Linked DNA regions of Homo sapiens: region 2 is linked to region 1. Evidence: fine-mapped expression QTL. Tissue or cell type: sun-exposed skin. Region 1 holds a variant in brackets; the other region holds the start of a gene. All regions are shown on one strand. Distances are between the middles of the regions.

Region 1 (2,827 bases):
GAAAGAGCCCACATAACCAAAGCAAGACCAAGCAAAAAGAACAAATCTAGAGGCATCACATTACCTGATTTCAAACTCTACTATAAGGCCATAGTCACCAAAACAGCATGGTACTGTTATAAAAATAGGCACACAGACCAATGGACCAGAATAGAAATAAACCCAAATACTTACAGCCAACTGATCTTCGACAAAGCAAACAAAAACGTAAAGCAAGAAAGGATACCCTATTCAACAAATGGTGCTGGGATAATTGGCAAGTCACATGGAGGAGAATGAAGCCAGATCCTCATCTCTCACCTTATATAAAAATCAACTCAACATGGATCAAGGACTTAAATTTAAGACCTGAAACTATAAAAGTTCTAGAAGATAACATCAGAAAAACCCTTCTAGACATTGGCTTAGGCAAAGATTTAATGACCAAGAACCCCAAAGCAAATGGAACAAAAACAAAGATAAATAGGTGGGACTTAATTAAACTAAAGAGCTTTTGCATGGTAAAAGAAACAGCAGAGTAAACAGACAACCCACAGAGTGGGAGAAACATCTTCACAATCTATACATCTGACAAAGGACACATATTCAGAATCTACAAGGCTCTCAAACAAATCAGCAAGAAAAAAACAAACAATCCCATCAAAACTGGGTTAAGGATGTAAACAGACAATTCTCAAAAGAAGATATGCAAATGGCCAACCAATATATGAAAAAATGCTCAACATCACTAATGATCACGAAAATGCAAATCAAAACCACAATGCAATACCACCTTACTTTCACAAGAATGACCACAATCAAAAAATCATAGATGTTGGCATGGATGCAGTGAACAAGGAACACTTTTACACTGCTGGTGGGAATGTAAACTAGTACAACCAATATGGAAAACAGTGTGGAGATTCCTTAAAGAACTAAAAGTAGAACTATCATTTGATCCACCAGTCACACTACTGGGTATCTACCCTGAGGAAAAGAAGTCATTATAAGAAAAAGATACTTGTACATACATGCTTATAGCAGCACAATTCGCAATTGCAAAAATATGGAACCAGCCCAAATGCCCATCAATCAATGAGTGGATAAAGAAACTATTATATATATATATATATATATACACTTAGCCATAAAAAGGAATACTACTTAGCC[A/G]CAAAAAGGAATGAATTAATGGCACTTGCAGCAACCTGGATGGGAGAGCATTATTCTAAGTGAAGTAACCCAGGAAGGAAAAACCAAATGTCGTATGTTCTCACTCATGAGTTGGGGGCTAAGATATGAGGATGCAAAGGCATAAGAATGATACAATAAACTTTGGGAACTTGGGGGAAAAGAGTAGGAATGGGGTGAGGGATAAAAGGCTACAAATGGGGTTCTGTGGATACTGCTTGGGTGATGGGTGCACCAAAATCTCACAAATCACCACTAAAGAACTTACTCATATAACCAAACACCATCTGTTTCCCAAAAACCTATTAAAATAAAAAATTTTAAATATACATAATATATATTTTATATAATGTATATTATAAATTATGTAATATATTTTAATAGTACATAAAATATTTTGTATGTTAAAATATATAATATTTTATATTATATTAAATATATAATATAAAACATACATATAAAACTTACATATTAGAGTTGGAAATGAAATATTTATATACATTTATATATAAATTATATGAATATATAAAACACATATGTATATATGTTTATGTGTGTATAATATACGTGTGTGTCTGTATACACACGTGTACATATGTGTGTGTATGTGTATCTGTTCTTCATCTATTACTAGAAGACACTGTGGACAAATACATAATATAATCATAGAAGTTCAGCATTAGAGAAAACTGATATTCCCTTCAAGCATGCCCTTGTGGAAACAGAATTTAGGAGGTTAAGAAACCTGGCCAAGGTCTTCAGCTATTGGATTACAAAGGCAGCAGCACAATTCATCTCTGAACGGTTAAGTCTCCATGCCACTTGTGTGCCTAGTTACGTGTGTGCCTAGTTACATCCTCCTGCTTATTAACAGCTAAATACCACTTTAAGAATTAAAAATCTATTCATTGGCATAAGAATAATATTTATGTGATAAGTTTCTTTTCCCCTAAAGTCAATGAAAATGACTCCTAGAATTTTTTCCTAAAATTTCCTTCTAGCATCAACTAGAACGGCCGAAATATTCAGAAGAGTGAAAGAATATTTCTCATCCCAGAGACTCCTAATATTTCCAGGTGTTTTTGCTATGTGGGAGGGAAAAAAAGCCCTCTGGTTCTGTGCTAACATCTGGAAAAGATGTTAACTATACACCTTTTTTTTTTTTCTAATTCCACAGATCTGGCTCAGCTGAGAAGCTCTTTTTCTTGGAAATGCAAACTTATTTTTATTGCTGCCTGGGAATATTTAGCCTTCCTGAAAACTTTGGTGTGCCTTTTACTATTTGAAAACCTGGAAGGTGCCTTTGAGTGAAAATATCATTCAAGTAGGTTTTGAGTGAAATTGAGATTTTTTTTAAACTTCAAACTTGACTGTAAGTGATTGTAACAATTAGTGCCACACATATATGGAGAGTTCAGTAGGTGCTGTTTATTATCTAACTGTAGATTGGCTTTCTTGATGTTTTTTCATAATAGATAGAATTTTCTTTGTTTTTATATTTTAGTTGCCTAAATTCATCTCATTACCGCACGTTGATTTTTGCCTTCCATTAAGCTTGAAATACTCTCATTTAGTTCAAAAGGTTGAGTTTAATCAACATGTTATTAAAAATTTTAAACCATTTATTATTCATTTATTTTATAATTCATTCTGTCAGCAA
Region 2 (2,827 bases), 26 kb before region 1:
GTTTTTCTCCAAAGCTGGATTTTGTCTTCACACTGTCTGGTTTTAGCAGTGGCTAGGTCAAAGTATACTACAGAAGAACGAAAAATCGACTCTAGAAAAGCACGCAGAATGACAGCCAACCAGTTAGGGAGTAAATGTTTCTCGTTGCAGATGTTTGGGAAGCCATGATTTTTATTTAGAACTGTGGAAACCTTATCTTTGAATTTAAAAAGCCAGTCCTGAGATGCATCTGCCTCAGGGGTAACTACCATAGTGAAACCGCTCCTCTCCCAGGCCATATCAAATCACAGTTGTAGTTATGAACATACAAATCACACACATATATATATATATATACATACATATATATTTCAAAATCGCCACCTGTTAATTTTTGATCCCCTATTAGAGGTGTTATCCACCAACTACTAACACGAAGGTCACTGGTCCTCAACCCACATTTCACCACCAGGGCAGTCGGGCCTAGCTGATGACCACACGAACACCAGATTAAGAGTAAAACCTTCTGAGGCCTGAAAGTGAGCGTGTATTCACACATCCTTAATAATACAGTGTCTGAAAAATTGTACCTGAAACTGAAAGATTTATTCTAAGGTATTTCAAGCACTAAGGGTCTGAGTTCAGCATTCTCACACCATCCTGAAAGAGGAACATTAAGTCAGCAAAATGACTGCGATCTGGGCCCCCAGAGGGATCCCAGCCAGGCCATCCTTGCTGGTGTCTTAAAGATTCAGTGACAAAATGGTGTTGCTTGGCAGGACACTGTTTTGCGTTCGGTGTAGCCACCCTAATGACGGCTGCTTAACAAGGCCAATGAATATCATAAGGGACATTTAGCAAGGAGCAATCCACAGGAGCATGGGGGTGGGGCAAGGCCGCGGAGCCCCCGCGGAGACCTGCTGGAGCCAGGCTGCCCACCCCCACCTCCCCACCCGCGCGTTGGCCCAGAGGTTTACCCAGGCAGCGGCCCTGGTGCCGAGGGGGCAGGTGCAGCGCTGTAGTGATGCCCAGTGGCCTCGTCCTCAGCCACCTGCCCCCCAACACCTGCTAGATGCCCAGGCGGGGCAGGCCCGAGGTGTCGCCGGCCCTGGGCTTCCCAAGCCAGCCCAGGGGCATCCCGCGGCAGGCGCCCCCGACACCCACGCGCAGGAATAGGGAGGGCGCATCGCGGCTCCCGCGCCCCGGCCAGGCCGGCAAGGACCCCACCGCCCCGCTCTCGGGTGGAGGCGCCCCTCCCCACCCCTCCCCCGCGCGGGGCCCCCGCCCGCAGCCCCTCTAGCAGCCCCTCTCGCAGCCCCAGCGCCCCTGAGCCGTCCTGGCCCGGACCGGCCAAGGAACTAACGAGCGCGCATCGCGGGCCTCGGGCGCAGGGCACGGAGCCGGCCGCGCCGCAGCCTCCCGGGCACCGGCGGCGGTGACCAACCTGTAACCCCAGCGCTCAGAGCTGTCATGGTGCCCGCGGGCGGCGGCGGCGGCGACAGTGGGCGACCGGCAGGATCAGTGCCAGGCGCGGCGCCCAGGGCGGGCGGGGACGCGGGCCCCTCACCTACGGCGGCTCAGCTCAGGCAGCGCGCTCGGCCCGGCTGGGGCCGCGGCTCACGCTCGCCGTGTCACTCACTGAGCGCCGCCGCCGCCGGGCAGGCTGGGGGAGGGGTGGGAGCCGGAGTTTTCGGGCCTTTAAAAAATTATTATTTTATTTAAATTTTTAAAGTTAGCTTTGCTACAGGGACTGCAGTGATGCCGAAGGGCGGGCACCGCAGAGGAGGCTGCGCCGCAGTTGGTGGGGAGCGCCAGGGTCGGTACTGGCAGTTCCTTCTTGCCGGCTGCCACCCGCAGTCAGTCTCACAGCAACAGCTAGGCTCTCATCTGCGAGCTCCTCTCGGGGGTCTTTCGTACTCAACAGCACGGCGGCGGTGTGCACGGGAGTCCGCCGGGCACACGCGGGGTACACTTAAGTGCACTGCCAGGAGGCCGGGAGCCCAGCGTGCGAGCGTGAGGTCAGACTGTGCACGGTACCGAGGACTAGTTCCATTCCTGAGTATGAAAGGGTGAAACCGTTCACCTCAAGTTTCACCCCGGAGTTATTAAATAATGAATGCATCAGTCACACTTATAGTTTTCTAAATAGGTTGACGTTCGCCTTTAAAATTAAAATATGTTGTCGTGTGGATGAGACAAAGTCTATTCAGAAATTGACAGTCCCCCACCCCATACCCTGTGAGTATACCTGGACAGCAGACTGCATCTGAGGCTTCCTAGGGCTCCCAGCAGAGCAGGTTTAGGGAAATCTGGCCTCCTAAGCACCATGCCCAGGGCGACATCCTCCCACTCATTCCCACTCTCTGAAAGGTTTACTTTGGGTCTGGAATCTTGCCATGTAGTCAGATACGAAAATCCCCAGGGAACTCCTGACCAGTGATTTAGACATCATGCACACAGGCATATAAATAAAGGGAAAGAAACAACTGAATGAAGCTTTCTCTACAAGAGAAATTCTAAACAAAGAGCATTTGTCTATCACAAAATGTTATGTGGCAAGGTATAGAAGTAAAACTACACAAACCTACATTTTAAAAATGTATTTTCTGGTTACAGATATTTAATTAATCTACTTTCTTAAAAAGTCCATTCACAATTTGTTCACATTCATAATCCATATTAGTACGTTTTATTGTTTACAGGGAAATGTTAAAATATTGGTATTTCATGAAATACAGAGTCATGCGAGATAATTTTTCAAATTTCTAAAGACTTCAGAAAAACTGTGTCAAAAGCCAGGTTTTAAACAAATGATGAAATCACTCCTCATAAGAAAAAATTGACAGTA

The links.
Region 2: it holds the start of NALCN, and the variant in region 1 is fine-mapped to the expression of NALCN in sun-exposed skin (GTEx, PIP 0.96).

Annotation. Positions count from the first base shown.
Region 1 is chr13:101,440,984-101,443,810 of GRCh38, forward strand. No RefSeq gene overlaps it. Among named protein-coding and RNA genes, the nearest start is that of ITGBL1, 10 kb to the right of the region's middle. The variant A/G (reference allele first, on the strand shown) is at 1,150.
Region 2 is chr13:101,414,890-101,417,716 of GRCh38, forward strand. NALCN (sodium leak channel, non-selective) reads right to left here and starts at 1,619. Exons shown (of 44, transcript NM_052867.4): 1 at 1,424-1,619. RefSeq lists enhancers at 420-970, 971-1,521.